Regions from separate parts of the Homo sapiens genome. Here regions 1, 2 and 4 are each linked to region 3. Evidence: fine-mapped expression QTL. A gene starts in region 3. Each other region holds a variant in brackets. All regions are shown on one strand. Distances are between the middles of the regions.

What was found. PIP is the estimated chance that this variant, and not a neighbour inherited with it, causes the effect.
Region 1: its variant is the best candidate, but not a certain one, in a credible set for the expression of RAI14 in fibroblasts (GTEx, PIP 0.51).
Region 2: its variant is the best candidate, but not a certain one, in a credible set for the expression of RAI14 in macrophages (Nedelec 2016, PIP 0.53).
Region 4: its variant is the best candidate, but not a certain one, in a credible set for the expression of RAI14 in esophagus mucosa (GTEx, PIP 0.81).

Annotation. Positions count from the first base shown.
Region 1 is chr5:34,537,179-34,542,328 of GRCh38, forward strand. No RefSeq gene overlaps it. Among named protein-coding and RNA genes, the nearest start is that of RAI14-DT, 120 kb to the right of the region's middle. The variant AT/A (reference allele first, on the strand shown) is at 3,010.
Region 2 is chr5:34,569,023-34,574,172 of GRCh38, forward strand. No RefSeq gene overlaps it. Among named protein-coding and RNA genes, the nearest start is that of RAI14-DT, 85 kb to the right of the region's middle. The variant C/T (reference allele first, on the strand shown) is at 2,214.
Region 3 is chr5:34,653,102-34,658,251 of GRCh38, forward strand. It overlaps RAI14 (retinoic acid induced 14), which reads left to right and starts at 3,227. Exons shown (of 18, transcript NM_015577.3): 1 at 3,227-3,374. RAI14-DT (RAI14 divergent transcript) reads right to left here and starts at 3,072. Exons shown (of 3, transcript NR_183264.1): 1 at 2,892-3,072. RefSeq lists a silencer at 3,185-3,234.
Region 4 is chr5:34,620,566-34,625,715 of GRCh38, forward strand. No RefSeq gene overlaps it. Among named protein-coding and RNA genes, the nearest start is that of RAI14-DT, 33 kb to the right of the region's middle. RefSeq lists a silencer at 380-740. The variant G/T (reference allele first, on the strand shown) is at 3,157.

The sequences.
Region 1 (5,150 bases), 120 kb before region 3:
TTCCATTTCTGAGTATATGTCCAAAAGAATTGAAAACTGAATCTTAAAGAAATATTTGCACACCCATGTTCAATGCACTCATAACAGCCAAGAGGCAAGAGAAACCTGAATGTCCATCAACAGATAAATGGATAAAGAAAATGTGGTGTGTACATATGATGGAATATTACACAGCTTTTAAATAAAGGGAAATTTTGTCACATGCTGCAACCTAGAGGATATTATGCTAAGCAAAATAAGCCGGTCACAGAAGGACAAATACTGTACGATTCCACATATATGAAGTATCGAATTTAATCTAAATCATATAGAAAAGTGGTTACCAAGAGCTGGGGAAAGGAGAAAGGGGAAATTCGTGTTTTTTAGTGGGCACAGAGTTTCAGTATTGCAAGATGAAAAAAATCCTAGAGATCTTTTGCACAACAGTGTGAATACATAACAAATTAATTGTACACTTAAAAATAGTTAAGATGGTACATTTAGTAAGGTATGTTTTTTACTACAAGGTTTTTATTTAACGGCAGCAGGGCTTATAAATTAGCCTGAAGACATCTCATTGAGCCTGTTCTATTCTTGTTGAGCTAAATAACAGCTACTAAAGAAGTAATCAGTTATAGATTGATCCAGATAAAGTCAGCCTATTTTAGATGGCTGATGTTTAAGGATGCCACCTAAAATAGGCTGACTAAATGAACACCATTTTTTTCATTCTTGCCCCAGTGGGGCATTGCCAGCCAGGGGTCCCTGCAATGTCACTTTGCAAGCCAGGGACCCCTGACTGACAACGCCCCACTGGGGCCTCACTCAGCCATCCTGACATACCCCAGCACACCTGTGTTATAGCTTATACCTGCGTTCTGCTGTTCCCGAGCTCTTGTACTGTGCCCAAGAAGAATGAGGATGCACAGGACATTGGAGGGTGAGGAGGGTGGAGAATAATTTTATTGAGTGATGAAAACAGCTTTCAGTGGAGAGGGGACAGGGTGATGGCTCCCCCATGTGGCTGGGTCTGGAGCCTTTTATGGACTCAGAATGGGGAGTGCATGCTGATTGGTCTGTGAGTATGCAAAAAAGTTTAAAGCAAAGACACCACTTAAAGGTGAGCAAGAAAGTGTACAAAAACCAGTTAGGAAAGAGTAGGTATATGTAAAATAGGTGAAGGGTGGGGACCAATCAGAGGAAAACATGCCAAATGGGAAGACAAGTTCCCAATCTGGTCAGAGGATTTAACTTGCAGCTTGGCTTTCAGGCTTTAAACTGTCTTCGGCTTGAAGGTGGGGTTTTGCCATGGGCCCACCCCTATCTGCCTAGGCATTTGTCTGCCTCTATCAATGTCAGAATGAAGACTGGGAGACCTGCTGCTCCTTCCATTGGTAAGAGGACAGTAACAGTGTTTTTTCACTCCTACAGCTTCTATTTATCTCTATATTGGTTTTGTTTTGGAAGGGTAAGAACTGGTTTTCTTTTTATTTTTTCTACAGTGAAAATATTTTTAAAAATTTTTAATATAAATGACTCATGTAAAAACACTCAAATGATACCATTTAATTTTTATCCTGATGACATAATCAGAAACCTTCTGGACCAGTCATTTTGCTTCCTTCCATCGTTTCTTATGAACAATATATACTAGCTTTCACCCTCATTCCTCCTAAGAAAGCAATTACACAAAGCTAGTATTACAAGAAAGCAATGTGAAGTATAGCTATTTTAAAAAACAAGGAAATTTTTGGGGGGGTGATGTGGGAATTACCTAGCAAATTTTGATGAACCCTAGGGATGCTGCTGGTCAACTAGACCCAGCAAAACAAAATACACTCTTCAATTACATCTATGTGTCTTGGCTTCAAGGAAAAGAGAATGGGTTTTGGTAATTGCAGTGTTTTGCTTTGGTTTTTTGTTTGTTTGAGATTTTTTGTTTGTGTTTGGTTTTTTGTTTTTTTACAAATTTGTAACATTTTTGAGATTGTTTTCTAAAACAAAAGCAGACCCAAAAAACCCACTAGATTTTTGTTCTCAGTTCCAGGGAAAAAAAGTCAGCCTACCCTCAATTTGAACCTGTATCCATGGGGTCATAATTAAATGCCTCAGAAGAACTTAAAATCATCAGAAAACATCTAATCATATTGTGACATGTCCAGCTACACATACTAGAATGTGGCTGGGCAGCAGTTTGACATTTTTGAAATGGCATCCGTAAAGGATAGGAAGGAAGTGCTGAGTAAGCACCAGGAGGAAAGTAATAAGGAAGGAGATTATTTTCTTTTCATCATATACCTGGGTCCAGGTGCTCAAAAACTATACACAGAATGAACTTGAAATTGTAACTGGAAGAATTCAACAAGGTCTCTAAAACATCCTGGAGACATGTAGGATGCTGCTTTGACCAGATGGAAGGAGCTAGGAGGAGGAAGTTAATTACATTTGTGGGCAGTGGCTGAGGCTTTATTGTAGTGGTAACGTATGAGAGAAGTCTTGAAAGAAAGAGAAGGATTTTGAGGGGCAGGGAAGTGAGGAAAAGACCTAAGGATGCAGGATGAGACCTTTACAGCTGCAAAGATGGACTGGGTTTCCAGTTTGTTTGCCAGACAAGGAGAAGATAATTGATATGGTTTGGCTGCGTCCCTGCCCAATCTCATCTTGAAATGTAGCTCCCATAATTCCCATGTGTTGTGGGGGGGACCCAGTGGGATATGACTGAATCATGGAGGCAGTTTCCCACATAGTGTTTTCATGGTAGTGAATAAGTCTCACAAGATCTGATGGTTTTATAAGAGGTTTCCCCTTTTGCTTGGCTCTCATTTGCTCTTGCCTGCCCTGTGTAAGACGTAACTTTCGCCTTCCATCATGATTGTGAGGCGTCTCCAGCCATATGGAACTGTGAGTTCACTAAACCTCTTTTTGTTTATAAATTACCCATTCTTGGATATGTCTTTATCAGCAACGTGAGAATGGACTAATACAATAATGCAGGGGTTTGTGTATGAGGGAAACACTCAGACTCCTCAT[AT/A]TTTTAGACCAATAATACAACACAACAACAAACAGCATAGAGGATGATCTGGAGAGGGAGTGGAAAAAATGGGTTATAAAGTTAATGCAGTGAACTGTGGCAGAGACCAAAGGGACAGAAAGGAGGATGGCATGATCTATACCTTCTAAAGTGTTCCATAACACAGATTAATTCTGTTTATATGAAGCTAAACAAAATTTTCTTCTGTTAACTAAAAAAAAAAAAAAAAAAAAAGAGAGAGAGAGAGAAAGAAAAGGAAAAGCTTTTATATGCTATAACTTGATTGCTTATAGAAGTTGCAACGTAAAAACAGAAAATAAACGTATGCAGACCCCAAAGTAGGAACAAGCACTTTTTTCACCTTGGAGCAATTGCTGCCCCTGTCCACTGCCAACTCCCTGCCCGACCACCCACTTCTCAAATGACACCTTTTGTTTCTGGACCTGCCCCCACTGCCATGCATGGAACAGAAACCAGGGAAATTCTTTCCCCACAAGAGCAGGAGGGACCAGAGGAGGTCACATTTAACACCACATTGCAGGAACAGAATTTACCCCTACGTTGCAAGAACAGAAAACAATGTCACTGGCGTGCTGAATTTTAACTCAAAATATATTTATTTCCCTCCTCCACTCCCACTCCTCAAAGAACCAGTGGGATATATATTAGTTCTGTTCTAGATTACTACTTATGGACTATTTCATTGCTTTATAAAAGTCGTTAGGCTCTCTTTCTAGCGTGTTGAAAGGGTTAATAGGGGTTGCTTCAATGGCTAGAAAAAGGTATGCAATTCAAATAACTGCTTTCCAAAAGAACTTCTAACATGTACCCGGTGTATATGGTGGTGGTAATACCACAGGCTTTCTGGGTCAGGCCCACTTTGCCACTTCTCCATTTAAGCCCGTTACTTAACCTCTCTGTGCTGTTTCCTCCTGGGTAAGTGAGGGTGATGGCAGTACCTCCCCCAAAAGGTTATTAGGAAAATTAAGCAGGTTAATACTGTATATGTAAAACACATGAAACAATGTCTGGTGCAGAGTTAAGTGCTTAATAAGCATTAGTGATGACCATGATGCAGCAAAATTCATTTCTTTTTTCCAAAATGAAAAGAAGAATGAGGTAAGAGAAACTCTTAGCAGGGTGGTGGTGCTAATGCTGTAGACACAGGATCCTAGGAGGTAAGGGGGAAAGAGAATCACCACTGCATTCACAGACAGCCCTCGTGGTCTCAAAATGGGGCAGCCCTTGGGCAGGGACACCGGGTGGACGATTTGGTACCACAGATGTACAAGACTCCATGATGCGTAAACTATAGATTGGTGTTTTCACTGGGGGACAAACCTAACACTACACATACAGGCATACCACAAAGACCCTCCTTCCCAGCAGAAAGAATATATGTGAGATATTCCAGGTTGCTTAAATGGGAGAGTTAAGAGAAAGAACAATTCTCCAAATTAATGGCCAATCTTCCCATGGAGCTAGGAGACAAAGAGCCATTCGCCTGCCTCACTTATGTTAAGATGAGGCATCCACCTTGTAACTCATGAGTCTCCCAGTTGTGTAACCACCCCATGGGTTCTTCTTGCCTGCTGCCCAGGTAAAGCCAATTTATCAAGACACGGGGGGTTGCAATAGAGGAAGAGCTGGCTAAACAGGTGACAGGTTTTATTATTACTCAAATCAGCCTCCCCAGAGGCCAGAGGTTTTTAAAGATAGTTTGGTGGGCAGGGGGCAAGGGAAGGGAGACAGCTGATTGGTTGGGTCTGGGATAAAATCATAGGGAGTTGAAGCTGTCCTCTGGCATTGAGTGAGTTTCTGGGTGGGGGGCCACAAGACCAAATGAGCCTGTTTACCAGACTGGGAAAAATACCTCAAACACCAATCTTAGGTTTGACAATAGTAATGTTGTCTATAGGAACAACTTAGGAGGTTACTGATCTTGTGGCATCTGGCTGCTTGACTCCTGAACCATAATTTCTAATCTTGTGGATAATTTGTTAGTTTCACAAAGGAGGTCTTGTCCCCAGGCAAGGAAGGGTTTTGTTTTGGGGCAGGCTGTTATCTTTGTTTCAAAGTTAAACTATAAACTAAATTCCTCCCAAAGTTAGCTCTGCCTACGCCCAGGAATAAACAAGGG
Region 2 (5,150 bases), 84 kb before region 3:
AGGCATAAGCCACCACACCTGGCCCACACTGGCTTTTAAGGCACCACATTTTTTAATCTCCTGCTCCACCTCCCCCCGTCACTTCACTTGATTCAGTTTGAGCTTATCACGGACAAGTTTTGATGTGTGCTGCTACTTAACTGAGTCTCCTACTTCTTGTAGAGTTTATTCAGTTGGCTCTTTGGGCCAAGTATGGGACATTTAATTTATGCCTACAACATTTCATCTTCTTGCATTTGACCCATTGCTAACAAAAAGATCTGCTGCCTCCTCCTTCTGCCTTACTGAGAGGAGTAGAACTGTCAGGCATGGGTACCCATAGGTAGCTTTATCCTCACCTGTTGGGTAGTAACCATTAACTAGGCCTGGAAGCAGAACCACCTACAGTGCAATTCCAGATAGCACCGTTCACATTATAGCCTGTGTAAATAGTGCCCTTTGTGGTCTGCCTGGAAGATGGGATGTATGTGTGTGTGTGCGTGCATGCACATGTGCACACACATGCCCACACACACACACACCCTTACACTTCCATTCTTTTTGTTATGGAGATTTATTGAAAAGGGAAAAGTACACACTCAATAAAAGGGAGTGTGGGTGTACTCAAGAGAGAGACATGCCGTATACCTCTACTCTGTCTGTTGGAAGATGACCTTAAATATCTCACATCAGGTCCTTGATCACTCTGGCCAGAAGTGCTCTTTTTCTTCCTCTGAAGCTGTGAAACTGCTGTTTGTTCTTCAGTTAAGGCAGTCCTAATTGTAGTCACTCTTGCCTTTGTCTTTCAGTATTGGAACCTCTTTGAGGCCAGGTATCTTAGTCAGGTCAGGTTGCCATAACAAATGACTATCTGTTGTTTAAGTCTGGGTGGCTTAAACAACAAATATTTATCTCTCACAGTTCTGGAAGCTGGAGAGTCCAAGATCAAGGCACCATCAGAGTCACCGTAGGTAAAAGCCCGCTTCTTAGTTTGCAGAAACCTGTCTTCATGTTGTATCCTCACAGGGCAGAGAGCAAAGAGGAAAATCCCATGTTTCTGCCTCTTTTTATAAGGACAGAAATCCCATTAATGAGGGTTCCACTGTCATGACCTACTGACCTCCCCACGAAAGCCCCAACTTCAACTACTATCACATTGTGCGTGAGGCTTCAGGATATGAGTTTTGGTGGAACATAAGCATTCAGTCCACAGCAACGGGGTTAGATCCTACAAGCTTTTGTGTCCCTGGTACACCTCATAGGATGCCTTTCCTTTTTTATTTTATTTTACCTTTTTTTGAAATGGGGTCTGGCTCCGTCGCCCAGGCTGGAGTGCAGTGGCACAATCATGGCTCCCTGCAGGCTCAACCTCCCTGGCTCAAGTGATCCTCTCACCTCAGCATCCAGAGTAGCTGGAACCACGAGTAAGTGACACCATCCTCAGTTCATGTTTTGATTTTTAGTAGAGACAGTGTTTCACTGTGTTACCCAGGCTGGCCTCAAACTCCTGAGCTCAAGCGATTCTCCCACCTCAGCCTCCCAAAGTGCTAGAATTACAGGCATGAGCTACCGCACCTAGCAGGATGCCTTTCCTGTAGTTGGCCCTCAGAACAAGGAAGACGTAGGTCTGAGCAGCCTGGTAGTGGTGTTTCAAATCCCATAGCTTGATGATTTCAGCACCCTTTAGGATTTATTCAAAGTAGAGTTAAATTCCAAGCCCACAAACAGTGGGAAGAGAGGAAGGGCGGTAGATGGTAAAAAAGGCTAACAGTTGCTGGTTCCTCCCAGTGTGTCTCTGAGGACACTTCTTTTCCCCATGGGATGATTAATACAAGGGTGTATATTCAGAAAACTTTTTCTGAAGGTTTAATGCAACCAGGGTGGGGAGTTACATCATAGTCTCACATAGCCAACTTTAAATGGAATATCAGCCGTGCCTCTTCTTAAAAGACCCATGGCCAAGCCCACCAACCAGGGACATCTCAGGGTAGCCTCTCTGAATAGCATCTGGGCCTCTCTCATCACACTGTGCTCCTTCTTCCCTGCCCCTTGGCAACATCTAAGCAGAATTTCTTATTCTCAGTCATGCCAAAAAATTCAGCAACCTCCAGCCTCTTCCTAAACCTAAACTTCAGCACATAACTGTGCTGTCAGTGAAATACTTTGCTGACCAGGCCATTTGATCCAGGACTCCACCCCAAAGCATCACAGCAGACGTTTGAAATTATAGTTCT[C/T]TCTTTTTCATAGACCAGTTCGAATTCCTAGGCTGGGATGACCTCTCTAGCTCTCCCTTCTTCTCCACACAAAAAAGAGGCAAAAGGAAGTGCACATTTCCACTTCACAGACTTATTGGTTGATTAATGAAGATGGGCTTTTCAAGCAGTCTGCCTTCTGGGATTGATTTCACTTTACCAAGAGATAATGGCCCATGGGACCCTCTCACTCTTTCTTAATCTGAGTGGGCTGGTTTTCCATGAGGTTTAATCAGAGAAAAAGGAAATGAGCTCATGCAAAGCTAAACCCCCCTAAAGCCTCAGATTCTTATGTTTTTGAGTCATCTGTGCAATACTTCCCTTCACTTCACTGGAAAGCAGAGAACAGAGAGAAAGAAGGTGTATTGATTTCCCAGGGCTGCCGTTACAAACTATTGCAGACTGGGTGGCTCAAAACAACAGAAATTTATTTTCTTACAGATCCAGAGGCCAGAGACCCAAACCAAGATGTCAGCAAGGTTGATTCCTTCTGGGGGCTCTGAAGGAGAATCTGCTGCATGCCTTTCTCCACTGCCTGGTGGTTTGCTGGCTGTCCATGGCATTCCTGGGCTTGTAGATCCCTCATTCCAATCTCTGCCCTTGTCTTCACATGCCCTTCTCCCCTGTGTGTCTACGTTCAAATTTCCTTCTTATAAGGACACATGCGAGATTGGTCAAGTGTGACCTCATCTTAACCAATTACATTGTCAAAGACCCTATTTCCAAATAGAGTCTGTTTCCATTCTGAGGTTCTGGGTAGACGTAAATTTTCAGGTATACTATTCAACCCGCCACAGACAAGAAATGGTGTGTCTGCACAATTGGGCGGCTGCAGAAGTCTTCTCTTCTTTCTTACCTGCCAGTGCTCATCCTAAACATGCATTTAAAAAGCAATAGAGCAGGCTGGGTGCAGTGTGGCTGAGGCCTGTAATCCTAGCACTCTGAAGGAGGCTGAGGCAGGCCAATCACTTGAGGTCAGGAGTTTGAGACCAGCCTGGCCAACATGGTGAAACCCCGTCTCTACTTCAAATACAAAAATTAGCTGGGCGTGGTGGCATGTGCCTGTAATCCCAGCTACTCAGGAGGCTGGGGCAGGAGAATTGCTGGAATTTGGGAGGTGGAGGTTGCAGAAAGCCAAGATCATGCCACTGCACTCCAGCCTGGGCAACAGAGCAAGACTCTGCCTCAAAAAAAAAAAAAAAAAAAGAACGAAAGAAAGAAAGAAAAAAGAAAATGCAATAGAGCAGACTGGTTTAGACTCTGGGCTCTCAGTCACGGCATCTGTGTGCACAACTCAGCCCTGCCTCTCACCTATGTGAGGTTTTACTCCTCTTTTGCTTCTATCTCCCCATCTACAAAATAGGGATAAAGAGAGTCCCAACTTCAAAGTCTTGTTGTGAATATTATGTATATTAATCAGTGTGGAGTGCTTGGAACAGTTCCCGGCACATAATTTGTGCTCAATAAATGTTACCAGCTGCCTATATTTTCTGAGTACCTTTTTTTGCAGGAGCCATTGGAGGTACTAGGGATATGAAACAATTAACCAAAACTTTTGCCCCAAAGGTTGAATAGTGCAGACTTTAACAAGGTAAGTGGCAATATAAATGTGTACATGCAAATACTAAGTGACAGGTGGCTCTTCTGGTTATTGTGTGCCGGTAAATTGGGAAGAAAGACAGCCTGTATATTGGCAGCCTGTGGCATCCCCACTTCTTGGAGCATAATTCATTGAACCTCTTTCTACAAGGAGCAATGCTCTTTAGGTCTTGACTGGGACAAACAACATATAACATTTGTACACAACTTAGCAAGTGCTTTGCTGTGGTTTGAATGTGTTCCCCCAAAGTTCATGTGTGGAAACTTAATCCCCAATGCAATGGTGTTGAGAGGTGAGACCTTCAAGAGGTAATTAGGTCCTGAGGGCTCCGCTCTCCTGAATGGATTGGGGTCATTATTGTGGGAGTGGGTTAACTAGGGCAGAAGCGGGCTCCTGATAAAAGGATGCTCTTGGCCCCCTTCCCTTCTTGCTCCCTCTCGCCTTCTCTTTGCCCTTCGGCTGTGGCATGACAGCAAGAAGGGCCTCATCAAATGCAGCCCCTTGATCCTGGACTTCCCAGACTCCAGAACCATGAGCCTAATACATTTCTGTGTATTATAAATTATCCAGTCTGCAGTATTCTGTTATAGCAATACAAAAGAACAAAAATATGCCTGCCTACAGATCATCTCAGGCAGTCCTCACAATGACTTCATGATACAGGTGGTGCTAGGTCTATTTTGAAACTAGAGAAAAATGAGATTCAGAGAGGTTACTAACTGATTTCTCCAAGGTCACCTAGCAGATCCAGGTCTCAAATCCAGCACTCTTTGCCTGATGCAACTAACTGACTACTTAGATGGGCACACTTGGGGGTCAATTAACTAAACAACTGCACTAAAGAAGGATATGTCATGGGGCCCCAGGAAGGCTGCATCTCCTGATGATGACAACGACAACTTCGAGGATGATGTTGTGCCTCAGTTTGTGTCTGCTTTGGGATTTTAAAAGTGGTTTGAGGCCAGGTGTGGTGGCTCACGCCTGTAATCCCAGAACTTTGGGAGGCCAAGGTGGGCGGATCACCTGAGGTCAGGAGTTCAAGACCAGCCTGGCCAACATGGTGAAACCCCGTCTCTACTAAAAATTCAAAAATTAGCTGGGCATGGTGGCGTGTGTCTGTAATCCCAGCTACTCAGGAGGCTGAGGCAGGAGAATTGCTTAAACTCAGGAGGTGGAAGTTGCAGTGAGATCGCGCCACTGCACTGAAGCCTGGGCAACAGAGCAACACTCTGTCTCAAAAAAAAGAAAAAAAAAAAAGAAAAAAGAAAAGAAAAGTGGTTTGAGAGTTGCTGAGAAAGCTTTAAAACTAGGTTTCAACC
Region 3 (5,150 bases):
TCCTGACCAAACACCAAATAAAGTGGAGAATGACTTTTTGGCTGTGGTGTGATATCTATCTCTCCTTCCTCCTGCAGGGGCAGTTTCTTGTTATCCCAACAAGTCTTAGCTTTGGTTCCTCAGACTTGGGCAATCAAGATACTCATAATCTAAGAAGAACCAGTATTGATGAAGGATGAGCAAGGAAAAAGGGATGATATCATTTAATCTCAAGAATAAAAATTGAGCCCACTCAATCAATGAATTTCATTTGTGATGTCCTGGATGGCAACACTCTTTGGAGTTTACAATTGTATTGCTTTGACAAGACTGACCTGCTAGTGTGATCAGAAAACAATGTTTCGTCATGAAATGACAGGGCAGTTTTGCTTATGAAGGGTCTACAAACTAAGAGAATAGGTTTAGGATGTCAGAACTGAAAAAGATCGGGTATGGTGGCACATGCCTGTAATCCCAGCACTTTGGGAGGCCGAGGCAGGCAGATCGCTTGAGCCCAGGAGTTCGAGACCAGTCTGGGCAACATGGCGTAACCCTGTCTCTACCAAAAGTACAAAAAAAAAAAAAAAAAAAAAATTACCGGGTGTGGTGGCCCACACCTGTAGTCCCAGCTAGTGAGGTGGGACCTGGGGGCTGAGGTGGGAGGAAAGCTTCAGCTTGGAGGTTGAGGCTGCAGTGAGCCATGATTGTGCCACTGCACTCCTGCCTGGGCACCAAAGTGAGACAAAGATAGAAAGAAGACAGAGAGAGAGAGAGAAAGGAAGGAAGGAAGGAAGGAAGGAAAAAAAGGAAAAGAAGGAAAGAGAGAAAAAAGAAAACAAAAGAAAAGAAAGATCTTGGAGGTCATGTACTTTGATGTTCCCTTCTACTAATGAGGAAAGGGGGAACAGGGGAAGTTAAAACCCTTGGTGAAGGTCAAATGGCAAGTAAGCAAAAGAAATGGGTCAGGAAACCCAGTCTCCTTGCTCTTGGTGCTCATGGCACTACATATTACACTGCTGTTACCTTGATATTTGGATAAAGGAATGCAACATACTGCTCCTCCCAAAAGGTTTTACTACTTTACACAGGTTAGCTGGTCATTTTATTTTTGCTTCTTTAACTCAACCCCTTTCACCTGGGCCTAGTTCTCATCAAAGGGTGGTATTCAATGTATCCAATGAACCCAATTAGCATTTCTAAAACGCCTGGGCAACACAACCAATAAGAAGATGCTATTGAACCTCTTACTTCCCCACTAATCCCCCTGCAGTTGGCAGAACTTAGCTGCCATGCTCAGTCTACAGACTACAAAGTTGCTTTGAGTTTCAAAAGTGGGGATCTGGAAAAGGATCTTGGCACAGCCCAAAAAAATAAGAATACTTTCACAACGATCCCTCATCCAGAGTTAGACTTGCTGACTTTAGAGGGTGGGAGTGTAAACTAAGGAGAATCATATACAAACCACCTATGGGAATCTAAGAGGTGATAGGCTGGTAGGCTCTTTGGAGGTGGCTGGGACAGAGAAAAAAGAAGAGGGACAGGACCTCTGTGAATCAAAGTCAGATGTGCCTGCCTTAGACAATCATTGTTTAATGTTGTCTAATATTTTAACTCCTTCAAAATGTCAACTGTTCCTACAGAATACACACATGTCAAATTTCCAAGACAGCATCATCTACCTGTACCATGCTCCAAATCCCATCCTCCCAGCTGCCCCTACTTGAACCAGACTGACCTGCAAAAATAGAGCAGAAAACTCACAGGCAGTAATGTTCCCCTTAAATACCCTACAATATGTCATTAACAAGAATCACGATGAAACACTATTGTAGAAATTGCCAGCATTAAACCAAAAGAATGTTGGTCAGTTCATGTTTCTTTTACAGTGTGACTTTGTTTGAGAGGGATAAAGGACAGGAAGAGGAGTGTACATCTTGCTTTAGCTGTTCCTCACTTGGCTAAGGAACTTTTGCTGTAGGAAGTGAAGACCCTGCACCTAGTTACAAGGCTTTTGATGCTTGTTTGTCAAGTTCAACTGTTAAAGGGGAGATAGGCTCTTCCCTAGTAGGGAGAGGGAGGAAGGAAAGGGGGATGGGGCGGGGGGAGGGAACAGGTAATATCTGCCATATAAATATTAGTATGTAGCTGACACGTTATAAACTGAGCTGTTAGGGTGAATTTCAATTTTGTTGGAATCGACCTTTTTTCCCTCTTAAGTTCAATTGACTTACAGTAGATCCCAGAAAGAACTCAATACGTTATTTATTCTAGAAAGCTTTCTTCCCTGAGCAAAGGAGGCAGAGCTAACGAGGAGAAGGGAGGAGCTTAGGTGAACAGAACTGAAGTCACAGCTGGTTAGCATGACTAGAATGCATGGAAAAGCCAGCCCAAATTAGATGAGTGGGTAGATAGAGAGCTTTGAAATCCTTGGAATTAATGGTGGAGTCCATCGTAATTGAAAGGTCGGGCCTTAGTGGGCTGGGATAGGGAGAGAAGCTGTCGGGGACCTGGGGCAGTGAGCCTGTACCCCGTGGCTTCTCACACACTATTTTGAAGGCGTTCCCATGCGCAATCTCGCCTGTCAGTTCAGGCTGTAGGTTTCTCCTTTCTAACTCCTGAGCAGAACAACACTGAACGGTGGTAGTCTTGCCTTGCCACCCAATGAGTGCTAGAAAACAGTCACTTCAACCAATTGGTTCAGTCCGGAGAACGTGAGCACATTCTACTTTACTTTCTGTTCAATGATTTTGGAAAACAACCTTTTAGATTCTGGTCAGAAGGGGCTTGGATCCGTGACTTTGAAACACTCGCCACTACCACAAACGACTTTGGAAGTTAATCAGAAATAAACAGTATCTGGGATCTCATCCGTCCTAAACCCAGGGGTCAGAGCGTGGGGGGCTTCCACTAACTTCAGGTTAAGAGGATGAAACAGATCCGCGGAGAAGGGTCCCACGATCCCTGGAGACTAAAAGCAAGCCACGAACAGCCGGGACGCGCGGGCCGGGGAGATGCGCCGGGGGCTGGAGGGCGGAGAGCACCCCCCGCAGGTCCCGGCCAGAGCCCGGGGCCGGGTCACCTGACTCGCGGAATTTGGGGCCGCGAGGGGTGGAATGGGAGGGGAATGGTTAGCGCCTCCCTTCCCGCTCCCACTGGATCCAGGTCGGCGGGGGCCGGCGCCCGGCGGCCACGTGGTGGTGCTGCCGCTGCCCCCGCCCCGCCGGCCTAGCCCGGGAGCTCGGCGCCCACTGACCCCCGCAGCGGGGGAGGAGGAGGGACTGCGGCGCAGGAAGCCGAGCAGGAAGCGAGCCCGGCGGCCGCGTTTTCCTGGGGAAGCGGCGGGCGGGGTGGAGCAGCCAGCTGGGTCCGGGGAGCGCCGCCGCCGCCTCGATGGGGTGAGTGCGCGGCACGGAGTTGGGAGGCTCCCGGCGCGGGGTCCCGGGCTCGTGTCCCCGCCTTTGTGTCTGGAGCTCGGGCGCGGGAGGCGCTGGGGACGGCGCCCGGGCGGAGCGGCTGAGCGGGCTGCAGCCGGGGTCCCGCCACCTCTCCCTGGTCCACCGCCGGCAGCCCACTGTCTGCGGAGAGCAGATCTGGGGACAAGAGGAAGGAGAGGAAGGTGGAGATGAGGGTAGAGCGGGAAGACCCGGCCAAGTTAGGAGAAGGGTTCTTCCCGGGTCCTCCGCGACTCGCAGGCCGGCTGGGGCGGGGCGCGGGGCAGGGGCCGCGGCGGAGGGAGCGCGGGTGGGAATGAATGAGCAGACCCGGAGATGCACCCTGGAGTCTGCGCCGGGTCCCACCTGTTTCGCCCCGCGCGGCGCCTCGCTGCCCCCGCGTCGGTGCTGCTGAGCCCAATCCGCCTCCCGGCTGAACTTGGAGGAGGTGGGGAGGGAGGTGCGAGCGGGAGACTCCGGGTGGCTCCCAGGACGCGGGGTCCGCTATTGTTCCTCCTCTGACTCCAGGGAGCCCCTCGGCCGGCCCAAGGGCGGGGGCGAGACCCCTCTGGGCCTGCCCCTGCCCCCTACCTTGTTTTCCCCGCCGCAGCTCGGGGAGAACGGATGCTGGAGTTGGGGCAGACTCGGGGCCGCCGGGACTTCGGGAGTAAGGAGGACGTGGAGCCACCAGAAAGGCGCCCGCCATCTCCCGCGACCCCTGCCTGGTGGGGGGTGGGGGGTGGGGTGTCGTCCTCAACCACCTTCGCTGCCTTCTTGGGCAGGTTGGTGTCGGTTTAGTTTCTGCGGTTTGCAGGGTTGACATCCTAACTCCTTTGAGTTTCGCATCCCCCTTTTGTGGAGGGGGCTCAGAGCCTGGAGAAGCAACAGACGGGGAATTAAGGCAGATGCAGCCCAGCACAGCGTGGAGGGGTCCGAAGTGGCCTCACGGGGGCCTGAGCATGGCTGTCTTTCCAGGCTCCTCTTTATTTGCCAGGAGCCCAGCTAAGCCCAACTTTACTCCCAGAAATGTTGAGGGGAATCTGCGGACTCGAGGCCCCTCGCCTCGGGACCAGCGGCTTCTCTTCGCCGCAGCTCACGCATGATCGGGGTGGGATTCCGTCTTCCTTCCGGGAGAGGAGAATGCCCAGCTGCCTGGGATGGGGAAACGTTGCCGGATCTCTGGGGAATGTGGTCTCAAGGCTGCAGGGGCCTGGCAGAGAGGAACTGTCCATCACTAGGACATAGCCGAAGCTCGCCTTAGCGAAGAGAGTCTCACCTCCTCGGGCTTTGCACAGAGTTGGAGAAGAGGTCGGGAATCACAGGGAGGCTGGATTTTGGCTGCTCTGTCCCCAGCCTGCAGGTCCCTGTTCGCCCTGTGGCTCGGAATTTTATTACTGATGTATATAATCTGATAATCTTTTCTTAATGATGCCTAACAAGTGTGATTTTTTTCCCCCTTGGGTTTGTAAGACAGTTGATTTTATGTGAGGAGATTGATCCAGTTCTTATATTTTAGCCAGTGCTTGTCTAACAGAGATTGGGAGAGCTATCCCGTGCTGGGCTGTTGCACAGTTTTCATCTCCATTCACTGAGATGCTTCAGTAATGAATTTATTGTTTTATGGCTTTTTGGAGATGGTGGTGGTGGTGGTGTGATTATAACCCTGCTGGAAAATCTTATTACTGTTATCTGAATTGAAGAGACAGAAAGGATGCTGAGCCCCCTAGGGATTCCGTAGGG
Region 4 (5,150 bases), 33 kb before region 3:
AAAAAATTCTAGAAACCCAGGGAGTGGAGCATGGTGGAAACCCCAGGCTGGAGATCCTCAGTGTCAGGTTCTGAGGTCAACGTGTAGATCAGAACCAACATGAGGGGCCTCTGCACAGTGTCTTGGGGTGGAGGGCGTGAGTGGGGGTGAACAATGGCAGGATCTAGAAATGCAGATAATTTGAATCCACCCGGAAGTGACTGCGTCTCTAACATTACCTTCATTTTTCCTTTGTAATTAACTTTAATTTATTTTTACTGGTTTGTAGACTACCCAGAGACACTGTGGGAAGATTTGTCAGATAGAATTCTAAAATTCTCATTCATTTCTTTTTATTTTTTATTTTGTAGAGACAAGGGTTTGCTTTGTTGCCCAAGCAGGTCTTGAACTCCTGGCCTCAAGTGATCTTCCTGCCTCTGCCTCCTAAAGTACTGGGATTACAGGCATAAGCCACTGCACCTGGCCTCATTTCTGTTTTTTTTGTTTTGTTTTGTTTTGTTTTGTTTTTTTGAGACAGAGTCTTACTCTGTCGCTCAGGCTGGAGTGCAGTGGCACCATCTCAGTTCGCTGCAATGTCTGCCTTCTAGGTTCAAGTGATTCTCCTGCCTCAGCCTCCAGAGTAGCTGAAATTACAGGCACCTGTCACCATGCCCGGCTGATTTTTGTAATTTTAGTAGAGACAAGGTTTCACCATGTTGGCCAGGCTGGTCTCAAACTTCTGACCTGAAGTGATCCGCCCACCTCGGCCTTCCAAAGTGCTGGGATTACAGGCATAAGCCACTGCACCCAGCCTCATTTCTGTATTTTCAATATACTTTACCTAAAGCTTATTTCACTGTAGGCTGGCAAGTTTCCTGGACAACATAGCATGAGAAAAGAATGTAAGTTTTGGAGTCAGAGAGGAATTTGCCCAAAGTCTGGCTCAGCCGTATTCTAGCTCTATTGTTTTGGTCAAGTCATTCGAATTCTTTCAGCCTCAGTTTCCACATCTGTGTAATGGGAGTCATAAGGATTATAAATAATAGTTGTAAAGTGCCTGGCTCCTACTAGACACCTGATAAATATCAGAATTATAATCATAGTGCCAAGGAAACATTACTTTCTCATATGAACTAGGGGACTTATACAAAATAAAAGAATGCCCTTTTCCACATCTGCAGGTTGTATCAAGTCCTGATATACACAAGTGGTCACACAAAGGAGTTCAAGGTTAAAGAATGAGGAGACTGAGCACCAACCCTTCCCTGGGTCCCTGCCGTTGGCACAACTCACAGCACTGCTAACAAAGGCTCAGGAACAACATCCTCATCACACCCATTCATCATTTTTCACCTTCCTTTTTGAGGTTAGGGATGGAAACTATTAGAGTTAGGAAAATGACTGTAATATTTTCCCCCAGTCATGATATTCTATCAATATGAAAGTTCCCAGAATATTCAACAGCCTCAGAGCTCACCAGGGTGGTAAGCCTAAACTTATTTGCTTTTAAAACATAAATGAAGTTGGTTCTGTAAATGTAACTTCTCACTGAGCCCAGAAATGAAAAATTCCAGCTTGTCACTGATCTCTTACAAAACTTGGAAGGAGCAATCTCCTTTCGTAGGCAGGATTCATATAAAACAGCCCAACTCAGTTCTTGTTTCTTTGTTTGCTCCATGTTTGGTTATAATTAAGTGTTTCATTCTTGAGGTTTCTTATCCACAGAGCTTCCCTGTAGAAGAGTTACCAGAGAATTATTTCTGCCTTTGCAAAGCAGGGAAGAGGTTCCCCCACCCACCTCTGTCTGAGCATTAAATCCCAGACACCAGCAGTTGGACTGAGCCCCACTTTCCAATCCTTTGATATTCCTTCCAATATTTTAGGGTGCAAGTCACCAAAACCAGAAAATCTTTATTGTAATTTTTTAAATTGCTGTTTGTTTAATTGATACCGACAACTAGTATTTCCTTCTTTAACTTTTCTATTTTAGGTTAGACCATGGAAGTTAAAGCAATGTGTGGAGGAAGAGTGTTGTGAGAAAAGAGAATATTAGAAGTAACTTTTATTTTTGGAGATTTTGAAAATAAATAGAGGGAAATGAGATAACCTCATGAAGGAAAGTAAGACTTAAGATCTGGAAGAGATTGAGTAGTTTCCTCATGTAAGGAAACCATAAACATGAAAGGTATCATGGTGACTTGAGTTGGGTTTTGAGAATGAGAAACTTGCTTTCCTCTCGGGCCTCCCCCACAAGTTGGGGAAGCCCACCTGCATTTTCAGGATGCTGGTCCCATGCCCAACCCAAGCATGTAAAATGGAAGAAATGAGCCCAAAGGGGAAGATTGGAAGCCCCAAAATGATCCAGGCTTTTCTCACAACTTAACTTGGTACATCGTGGCCCCAAATGAGAGCATAAAGTGAACCCAGACAACCATTTAAGTGGTAGACCTTGAAAAGAGCATGCTGGCTCCAGATTTTCTCACAGCAGCCTGCAGTTCTTCCCAAGGCTCTTTTCTGTGAGTTAGCTCATTCGAACTTCCTCCTAAAATGTCATGAGCTATCTGGGAGGAGTACATCGCAATGCCATTATTACCCATTATAATTTTAATTTGACTTGATTTCTCACATCATGGGTGCTGTGGACTGAATGTTTGTATCTCCACAAAGTCGATAAATTGAAGCTTTATTTCCCAGTGTGATACTATTAAGAGGTGGGGCCTTTGGGAGGTAATTAGGTTGTGAAGGATGAGCCCTCATGATGGGATTAGTTCCCTTATAAGAAGAGACATGAGGCCGGCTGCAGTGACTCATACCTGGAATCCCAGCACTTCGGGAGGCTGAGGTGGGAGGATCACTTAAGCCCAGGATTTGAAGACCAGCCTGAGCAAATATAGTGAGACCCTCCTCTCCATAAAAAAATTTTTTTGGCCAGGTGTGGTGGCTCATACCTGTAATCCCAGCACTTCGGGAGGCTGAGGTGCGTGGATCACAAGGTCAGGAGATCGAGACCATCCTGGCCAACATGGTGAAACCCCATCTCTACTAAAAATACAAAAATTAGCTGGGTGTGGTGGTACATGCTTGTAATCCCAGCTACTCAGGAGGCTGAGGCAGGAGAATTGCTTGAACCAGGGTGTCAGAGGTTGCAGTGAGCCAAGATAGCGCCACTGCACTCCA[G/T]CCTGGCAGCAGAGCAAGACTCTGTCTCAAAAAAAAAAAAAAAAAATTTTTAAGTTAGCTGAGTGTGGTAGCATGTGCCTGTGGTCCCAGCTACTTGGGAAGCTAAGGTGGGAGGATCACTTGAGCCTGGGAGGTTGAGGCTGCAGTGAGCCCTGATCACACCACTGCACTCCAGCTGGGTGACAGAGTGAGACCCTGTCTCAAAAAGAGGAGATATGAATACGTACAACTAATATATAATCAATTTTTTAATTATTTATTTATTTATTTTTATTTTATTTATTTGTTATTTTTTTTGAGATGGAGTCTTGCTCTATCGCCAGGCTGGAGTGCAGTGGCACAACCTCGGCTCACTGCAACCTCCGCCTCCTGGGTTCAAGCGATTCTACTGACTCAGCCTCCTGAGTAGCTGGGATTACAGGAGCCTGCCACCATGCCCAGCTAATTTTTGTATTTTTAGTAGAGACGGGGCTTCACCATGTTGGCCAGGATGGTCTTGATCTCTTGACCTCATGATCCGCCCACCTCAGCCTCCCAAAGTGCTGGGATTGCAAGCGTGAGCCACCGTGCTGGCCAATTTTTTTTTAAATAAGAGATATGAAAGAAATCACCTGTTTCTCTGCCACATGAGGAAACAGCAAGAAGGCAGCCCTCTGCAAACCAGGAAGAGAGCCCTCACCAGGATCCAAATTGGCCAGTACCTTGATGTTGGACTTTCTAGCCTCCAAAACTGTGAAAAATATTTTTTTGTTGTTGTTTAAGCCACTGGTTCTATGGTATTTTTGTTATAGCAGCCTGAACTAAGGTGAAGATTATGGGGGAGAGTATAAATAAGAGGAACAGTGGACTGCTGTGTTTTAATATCATTGGTAGGCATGGTCTGAGAGTGGCTGGCTGCAGAAGAGGCCCTGGACAGACAGGGGTTGTCCTGCTCAGAAGTGTGCACACTGCTGGTCTGAAAGCGAAAGATCATCCATCTCTCATAGGATTCACAAGTCAATCATTAAGCAAGCATTTACTGAGGACCGATATGATGTGCCAGGCACAGTTCCAGGCACCGTGAACCCAAAGAGTTCTCCAAGATACATTCCTCAGGTAAACAGGTAATTAGGCCACCACATGCTAAGTGGGAAGATACAGATATACACAGGAAGCTACAGGAACACAAGGTGTGGGACTGAGCCCAACTCAGAGGGAGTGCTGGAAGATTGTTAGGACAGGCTCCCTGGAGGAGGTGATAGCTGAGCCAAGGTATTTTCCATAGCAGAGATTACCATATTTCACCGATTATGAGATGCACTTTCTTTTCCACATTGTAACATCTCTAAAACTGGGATTCATCCCATAATTGATGGAGACTTGCCATAGCTCTGATTGTCATTACCTGCACACAGGTAAATTCGGTCATTTTGTCATCAATTCATTTGAGTTATTTGCAACATTAGTACTACGCAAGTGGAGTTTAATCGCCATTTAAAATATCTTCAAAAACATTAGATATAGTTTGGTGTTACAGCAAAAAAAAAAAGTCTACACAGAAAAGTATAGGAATAAAGGAGCTTACATTGGATATTAACAAAGCAGATATTTATGGAGGAATGACCAGAGTTGTGTATTTGTCACAAGTATTTTAATAGAATCAAGAAGAGAAGATACCCACAAGTATGTGAAGCTGTGTTATATTTTGTTACTAAGATACCAAAAAAAAGAATTGTCTATCACACACTAAGCAACACAGCTAAAGGCAGGAAAGTTGCCAAACCCAGAGGAATATACACAGGGAAGTATCAAATGAGCAAAGGCTGGTGGCACTAATTTCATGCACGAGCAGGACTGTTCTTAAAGCATTATATCACAGTTTAATGGGCAGAGTGGTGTTTTTCTTTTTTGGTGATAAATAAACCAGCCAATCAATGGTACCTTAATTTGATATATAGTGGGACATTTGGATCAAGGGACAGAAACCCACCCACTTTAACTTAAACCTAAGGCAG